Linked DNA regions of Homo sapiens: regions 2 and 3 are each linked to region 1. The links come from fine-mapping of genetic effects on plasma protein levels. Region 1 holds a variant in brackets. A gene starts in each other region. All regions are shown on their reverse strands.

Region 1 (2,500 bases):
CGTGATCATGGCTCACTATAGCCTTAAACTCCCTGGCTCAAGTGATCCTCTCACCTCGGCTTTCCTAGTAGCTGGGACCACAGGTGTGGGCCAGCACCCCTGGCTGATTTAAAAAAAAAAAAATTTTTTTTTTTAGAGATGTCTCACTATGTTACCCAGGCTGGTCTTGAACTCCTGGGGGCTCAAGCAATCCTCCTGCTTTGACCTCCCAAAGTGCTGGGATGACAGGCATGAACTACTGCACCTGCTGAGATGCAACAGCTTTCTGTCAGACTCATTTTATTCTCATCATTTCTTCCTGTCCTCCCTTGCTGGGAGCATGAGAGCTGTGATGGGAATATAGGAATGTATGAAGTCCTTCTCCCAGATCAAAAATCCTAACTTCTTGTCTTAAAGGGAGGAAAATTTGAATGTAACCTTACTTTTAGACTCTTCAGAAATCCTTCTATACCCTTCCGTCCCCGCTTTCACCCTTCCTCCCTCTCCGTGTGTGTATCTTCTTCTCTTGAAACACACAGGTTTATACCCTGACCCCTCTTGATTCATCCCTTGAAGCACAGTGGTGAACAAGGAAGGGGCCCGTGATGCCCTAATTCTTTGCCACAGCACCATGTTTGTTTCACAAGGAGCCTGGCAGGTTTGGGCTTGGGGCAGATAGGGGAGAGAAAGCAGCAGAGACAGCAAAACCAAATCATGTCAGCTTGGCATGTACTTCCCTCTGAAATAGCTAAGAATCCATTTCTGTAAAAGCACTGATTATCAGAAAACCTTATTGGCCTGGCCACCTTTGGTTCAAACCCTCACATTAATAATGTGGACAGTAGTATGAGGTGTGCCAAAGGTGGATGACTCAGCACCTAAGTGATGACACCTAATTACGAATAGGTTCATTAAAGCAGACCCCCTGGGGACCTTTGCTTGAGGATCCTTACAGTCAGAATTCCTGAATATATTTGAAAATAATAATTGCATCTTTATTTTCATATGTTCTGTATGGTTTGGCTGACTTCCCCCTCAAAGTCTGAGTTAGAGTTTTCCTTAATTTATGTGATGGGTTTGGTCTTTTTGGATTCCAGAAAGAGCTGGGTGTGGTTTGGAGCT[G/A]CACTCAGAGTCACACAAAACCACAGCCTTTAGAGAACCCACAGGAAGGCTTTGGGGCACGTCCTGATTCTTGACATTTCTCATCAGTGCTGACTTTGTATCCCTTAGGAGTTCACAATTCATAACCACTGAAATATTAAAATACAAAAAGTTTTGGAAGGATGAGAGCCCAGATGCTCTACTACTTGAAAATATGTTAAAACATAAGTTCATCATTATACATTTTGCTAAATCAGGATAAAGTCTGAAGTTTCAAAGAAGTTTTATTTTAGCAAATTTTCAGAAACACTGCCTCAACTGTTAGGGCCAGTGTTCTAGTCAGTATGCCTTTGGAAGCATGAAAGCTGGATTGGTCGATAGGATGGGTGTGGAAGGGGGGCTGTGACTGGGTGGGTACAGAGAGGCTCTGAAACAATCTCAGATTCCAGGAGTTCCTGGATAAGGACTTCATGTGCGGGAACAGAGCACAGGAGAAGCAGATTCCTGAGCCACTCAGGAAGAACTGGGCCTAGGCCTGCTCTTGTCACTGACTGGCTTTCTACATAACCACAGAAACAGCACTGTGTTGTAGAAAGAGGAAGATCATACTTTTTGATATCTGTGTCTAATTTAAGGTCATCTGAGCCCTGATAGAAAAGCAAAACAGACAAAACCCTTGTAACTGCTCCCTCCCACCCCACCCACCATCAAAAAAGCTTTAGAGAGGCTGGACATGGTGGCTCTTGCCTGTGATCCCAGCACTTTGGGAGGCTAAGGTGGGTGGATCACCTGAGGTCAGGAGTTCGAGACCAGCCTGACCAATATGGTGAAACCCCATCTGTACTAAAAATACAAAAATTAGCCAGGTGTGGTGGCACACGCCTGTAGTCCCAGCTACTTGGGAGGCTGAGACAGGAGAATTACTTGAAAACCTGGGAGGCGGAGGTTGCAGTGAGCCGAGATCACGCCATTGTACTCCAGCCTGGGCTACAGAGCGAGACTCCTTCAAAAAAAAAAAAAAAAAAAGATCCGGTTTGGTGTCTTACAACTGTAATCCCAGCACTTTGGGAGGCCGAGGCCGGTGGATCACGAGGTTAAGAGATCAAGACCATCCTGACCAACATGGTGAAACCCTGTCTCTACTAAAAATTAGCTGGGCGTGGTGGCAGGCGCCTGTAGTCCCAGCTCCTCAGGAGGCTGAGGCAGAAGAATCGCTTGAACCCGGGAGGCGGAAGTTGCAGTGAGCCTAGATCGCGCCCCTGCACTCCAGCCTGGCAACAGAGCAAGACTACGTCTCAAAAAAAAAATAAATAAAAACTCTAGAGAAGCAAAAAGAATAACTTTAAAAGTGTTTATGTTCTCAGCAAGCTTTATTTTGGGGATGTCAGAACTTAACTAACCACTGCTCCTTCTGTGTGTA
Region 2 (2,844 bases), not on the chromosome of region 1:
GTGACAGAACCAAACCCTGTCTCAGAAAAAAAAAAAGAAAAAAAGAAGAAGAAATGACCATGTTCTTTAGAGATAAGAAGTAAAATACTAAGCGAATCAACTAAAAGAGGTAAAAGCAATTGCCTCCAGGAAAAGAGGGAGCAAAGGAATGCTATATATTTTAAGAATTATGCAGAACAATTAGATTCTTTGTAAAAATAAATAAACAATGTAAGTAACGCACAAAAGATAGTTTTATAACCAGACTGCTGGGATCCAAATCCTATCTCCACCATTTGGTAGCTGTTTGACTATGGACAAGCTTAAGGCATTTGATCTCTCTGAGCTTTAGTTTTCCCATCTGTGAAATGAGAATGACAATAGTACTTACCTACATAAAGTTTTGCAGTACTAAAGGAGACAGTGAATGTAAAAGGTTTGGCTAGTAAATGTCCTGTAAAAGGAAGCTTATTGCCAATATTATCAGGCTCTCCCAGACCAACCTGTATACAGGAAGAAAACAAACTCCGTTTCTCCTATAGTCTCACAACACAAAATACTTCTGACCCCAGATGTAGAGGATGGGGCATATTTCCCCATACACCAAGCAATCAACCAATTGTTCAGATTCTGCAGCAGACACGAATCTGGTGCCCTCCGATTCAATTTGAACACTATATTTACCTAGAGATAACGTCAGATCTCACAGCTTGAAGGCTTGAGCCAGGAGTTTGAGGCTGCAGTGAGCTATGATCGAGCCACAGAGCTCCAGCCTGGGCAACAGAGTGAAACTGCGTCTCTAAAATAATAATAATAAATTTTTAAAAGATATGCATTACTTTGGAGATTCCAAGGATTTTAGGAGTTGTAAGCCAGGACATCAGGGTAAAGAAAAAATATATATGTCACAATATCATGCAACCTAACTTCTCTTTGGGATCTGCCAGAGCCACCTGATCACTCTGAAGACCCTCATTTGTGCTACTGACTAACGGTCTGGCTGCTCTTGGACATGTCTCTTCTCCCAAGACCCCTTGAAGATGGCTTTAGAAGGGCCCCAAACTTAGCTAGCTCCCCCCAAGCTCAGGCTGGCCCTGCCCCAGACTGCGACCCCTCCCTCTTGGGTTCAAGGCTTTGTTTTCTTCTTAAAGACCCAAGATTTCCAAACTCTGTGGTTGCCTTGCCTAGCTAAAAGGGGAAGAAGAGGATCAGCCCAAGGAGGAGGAAGAGGAAAACAAGACAAACAGCCAGTGCAGAGGAGAGGAACGTGTGTCCAGTGTCCCGATCCCTGCGGAGCTAGTAGCTGAGAGCTCTGTGCCCTGGGCACCTTGCAGCCCTGCACCTGCCTGCCACTTCCCCACCGAGGCCATGGGCCCAGGAGTTCTGCTGCTCCTGCTGGTGGCCACAGCTTGGCATGGTAAGAGCAGAACGGGGGGTGGGGGACTTTGTTGGGGTGTGATGGAGAAGACCCCTGTGAAAGGATTCAGTCCTTGCCCCTCACTGGGTGTCCTCAGGCTGTTTTAGTCTCCCCAACACTGGACTGCAGGCTTGTGGGTATCTGCTTTGGAGAGGTAGTGGGGTGAAAAGAGATGGGTGTGGTGGAACTGGTCCACCTGGTGCTGTGGATCTGTCCCAGCTCTGCCAGCGACTCACTGTGTGTCCTGAGCAAGCCTCTGATACTCTTGAGGCTTCAGTGTCCACTTCTATTCAATTGCAGGTGTTGGGGGCAGGGGGACAGTGATAGACTAGACCAGAGCAGTGCTTTTCATACTTTCCTGTGCATACAAGTTACCTGAGGATTTTGTTACAATGCAGATTCAGACTCAGTCGGTCTCAGGTGCGACCTGAGATTCTGTATATCCAACACACTCCTGGGAGATGTGAGATGCCGGCACTGCTGGTCCAGACCTACACTGAGTTGGGAGGACCTGGAGAGCTCCTGATGGCTCTGGCAGCTCTGCCAGCCTGTGATTCGATGATTCTATGCAAGATCTGATTTGGAAGGGCCTGATAGGGGTGGTGGTTCTTCCTTGGGTGGCTTGTGTAAGGGGTCAGAGGGGAGAGACAAGAGGTTGGCCTCTCTGGCCCAGGGCTCAGGAGAGGGGAATTCGGGGTGAAATAGGTATAGGGCTAGAGGAGGGATTGGGAAGAGGCCAGTGAGGGTCTCCTGGACCAGAGCCCTCCCAGACACAGGCTGCCAAGTCTCAGGAGGTCCCCAGGCTGTAGCAGTTCTGCAGAATTTCCATCTGGGAGGGAACATGACTAGAGGTGAGGGGCTGCTGTGCTTGGCTTGTTGGCCCAACAAACACATTTCTATTGCCTGCTTATTCAAAGGGACCTTGGGGGAGGATGGGGATTGAAGGGGAGAAAGGACAGCCTCATACTGGCCTCTTCACAGAAGGACCCTAAGGCCGTGGCGCTTCTGGTCCCTGATGAGGAGGAGATGGCCCACTGACCATCCTTCTCTGGCCCAGGCAATCACACTGAGCTTGAGTATTTGGGTTTTTTTTTTTTTTTTCCTGAGACAGAGTCTCTCTCTGTCACCAGGCTGGAGTACAGTGGCACAATCTCGGCTCACTGCAACCTCCACCTCCCGGGTTCAAGTGTTTCTCCTGTCTCAGCCTCCCAAGCTGGGATTACAGGCATACACCATCATGACTGGCTAATTTTTGTATTTTTAGTAGAGATGGGATTTCACCATGTTGGCCAAGCTGGTCTCGAACTCCTGACCTCAGGTGATCCACCTGCCTTGGCCTCCCAAAGTGTTGGGATTACTGGTGTGAGTCACGGCGCCCGGCCTGGACTTCTTATTTTGCAATGTAACTTACATGCAGTAGAAAGCACAGGTTCTTAAGTTCAATGAGG
Region 3 (2,844 bases), not on the chromosome of region 1:
TAGGAGTGGACACAGGAGCTATAAAGAGGAACAGAGTGATAGAGACCTAATATCTCTGTAGCCTGAGCATTTCAGGGTGGAATGTCACCAGACATCTGCTTTGGGGCACCATGGCCTGCGATTCTGGATCCACCCTGATTTAGGGTTTCACATCCTTTTACACCTGCACACGTGGCCTTGCCCTCAGGGTACAGGGGCCTAATTTGCTGTGGCCAGCTCCCCACCAGTACAGGTAGGCAGGGACTGAGTTGAATTAAGTTTGAGTTGTGAAATTAAAAAAAAAAATGGCCAGGAGTGGTGGCTTACGCCTGTAGTTCCAGCACTTTGGGAGGTCGAGGTGGGAGAGTCACTTGAGCCCAGGTGTTTGAGACCAGCCTGGGAACATAGGGAGACTCCGTCTCTACAAAATAACTTAAAAAATTAGCCGTGCATAGTGGCAAGCGCCTGTAATCCCGGCTTCTTAGGAGGCTGAAGCAGGAGGATTGCTTAAGCCTAGAATTTCGAAGCTGCAGTGAGCCAAAGTGAGCCAAGATTGCACCAGGACACCCCAGCCTGGGCGACAGAGCAAGACACTGTCTCAAAAAACAAAAACAAACAAACAAACAAAAACCAAAAAAAGTCTTGTTGCTTGTATCTGGGATTGCTTGGAGCAATTAACATCTGCTTCACATGTCAAGTGCCTGCACAAACTAGGCCCTCAATAAGATGGGCTGCAGTAATGTAACAGTAACTAGCTGTGGTGGGGGCTTTCCTTTCCTGTCCCAAGGTGGGGGTGAAGGTATAGGATAGTGGCCGGGTGCAGCGGCTCACCTCTGTAATCCCAGAACTTTGGGAGGCCGAGGCAGGCAGATTACTTGGGGTCAGGAGTTCAAGACCAACCTGGACAACATGGTGAAACCCCGTCTCTACCAAAAATACAAAAATTAGCCGGATGTGGTGGTGCATGCCTGTAATCCCAGCTACTCGAGAGGCTGAGGCAAGATGATCACTTGAACTCGGGAGGTGGAGGTTGCCGTGAGCTGAGATTGTGCCACCGCACTCCAGCCTGGACGACAGAGTGAGACTCCATCTCAAAAGCAAAAACAAAACAAAAAGAAAAAAACCAACAACAAGAAGCCAAAAACCAAAAAACGTACAGGACAGTGAGAGGGGAAAGAGAAAACCTGAGGAGTGTCCTGGACATTGGGGCCTTATGTCCCCCACAACACGGGACTGCCTCTTGGGGGTTCTTAAGAGTACTCAGTGGTACAGGGAGGCTCCTGAATGGCTTGGAGAATAACTGCCTTGGTCTGGGCATCGTGTAGTGCATCCCCACCCCAGGCTGGGCGCGCCTCCCTCTCAGGTGTCAGGGAGGAGAGCTGTGTGCAGGAAGCCCCCTTCCACCTCCCCCAGCCTCCCTAAGGGGCTCAGAGAGAGTGGGGTGTGGATTTGGCTGGTGAATGGGAGTCCCCCACTCCATTTCTCACTTTGCCTGGGGAGGCTCCAGCGTTGCAGCGGTCCCACTTCTGCTTGCTGGAGTCCCTAAGTCCCTGGCCTTGCCGAGGGCCTTCCCCTATGGAGGTCTTTCCCGTTTTGGCATTGCGCAAGGCCTGCAGCTGCCTCCCTGACCAGCCTCTGGGTTGGACAGTAGAGCTGAGGCTTTGGGAAAGAGGAAGCAGCCCCTGATACGGGATCCTTCTCTCTTGAGCCGGCAGAGCCCTGGGGAGCCAGCTGCACCAGGAGCTCTTGGCCGTCCTTCCTGTTCTCCTCTCCGCAGGTCCAGCACCGCCGCAGCCACTTCCTTCTGTGGAGCAGGTACCCCTGTCCCTGGTCCCTGGGCCCAGAGGGTGAGTGGAGCATTAGGAGCGGGGCTGGGCTGAAACTGGCTGAGCGGGATAGGGGCAGGGGTCGGGGGGGGGCTCCATCTGGGTGCGAGTGGTGGACCCCAAACCAACCCAAGTCCAAGACACTAATCAAAGATGGACTCAACTGAAACCCTTCCACCACCCCCAAATCCTTCCAACCTGCATCCCAATCCCAGTCCCGACCATCACCCTGCTCTGACCCTACCTCAGCCCCAGCCCCAGCCCCTATTCCAACCTTATCTCACCCTCACCTCACTTGCACCCCAACCCTAACCATTTACTCATCTCATCTAATCCCAACCATCCATCATCCCAACCCTAACCACAACTCCGACTCTATCATCCTCATCTCAACCCAGCCTCCACCGTATCTTAACCATCACCTGCACCCAACTCCAACCTTCACCCTTACCCCCACCCATCACTCAACCTCAATGTCCACCCCAATCCCAGCCTTAATTTGCTTCCAGAATTCCAACCTGATCATCACCCTGACCTCAGCCCCAGCCCAGCCCAACGATAATCTCTCCTTACTCTAACCCCAGCACAATTCCACTTCATCCATCACCACTTCGTCCGTCCACAGGAGGGCTTCTGGTGCTGTCCAGCACAGTTTGGAGAGTGAGCACTCCAGCCAGAAGCATTTAGAGCCAGATTAAGGAATGAAGTGTGAAATTTCTACTGCCCATGTCAAAGCCAATAAGCATTAGTTATGGATTCTATGGCTCTGAGAATTAAACATTTGGCCTGTGATTGGGGATTTCCACTATTTTGACCATAATCTGCTCCAGGAATTGCCCATCCGTACCCTGACTCCCTATCTGTGGGCCAGTAACCTCCAGCTGGCCATGTCACCCTGTGTTCTTCCTTCTCTAGCCCAATGGGGAAGTTGGGGAGAAGCCTTGGTGTCAGGAAACAGAAACTGAATCCTACACCCGGGCCTAGCTGTCCATAGGGAAACTGCCTCTGCCCTTTCTTCCCCAGCTAAACTTGGCCTCTG

Direction of the effects. Positions count from the first base shown, and alleles are read on the strand shown. Strength reflects both the effect of a copy and how common the allele is.
In carriers of allele A in region 1, the plasma level of the protein whose gene starts at base 1,221 in region 2 tends to be lower than with G alone (moderate association).
With allele A in place of G in region 1, the plasma level of the protein whose gene starts at base 1,664 in region 3 is lower (weak association).

What was found. PIP is the chance, under the fine-mapping model, that this variant and not a neighbour inherited with it causes the effect. Protein levels are from antibody-based Olink assays in UK Biobank. Linkage for the fine-mapping came from a reference panel and not from the study's own genotypes, which makes the PIPs less certain.
Region 2: CSF1R starts here. The variant in region 1 is fine-mapped to the plasma level of the CSF1R protein (UK Biobank, PIP 0.95).
Region 3: SIGLEC1 starts here. The variant in region 1 is fine-mapped to the plasma level of the SIGLEC1 protein (UK Biobank, PIP 0.99).

Annotation. Positions count from the first base shown.
Region 1 is chr9:33,116,128-33,118,627 of GRCh38, reverse strand. The region is part of intron 3 of B4GALT1 (beta-1,4-galactosyltransferase 1); the gene reads left to right. Among named protein-coding and RNA genes, the nearest start is that of MIR12117, 8.7 kb to the right of the region's middle. The variant G/A (reference allele first, on the strand shown) is at 1,102.
Region 2 is chr5:150,084,931-150,087,774 of GRCh38, reverse strand. It overlaps CSF1R (colony stimulating factor 1 receptor), which reads left to right and starts at 1,221. Exons shown (of 21, transcript NM_001288705.3): 1 at 1,221-1,396. The coding sequence starts at 1,348. RefSeq lists an enhancer at 1,134-1,163 and a promoter at 916-1,348.
Region 3 is chr20:3,711,420-3,714,263 of GRCh38, reverse strand. SIGLEC1 (sialic acid binding Ig like lectin 1) reads left to right here and starts at 1,664. Exons shown (of 22, transcript NM_023068.4): 1 at 1,664-1,794.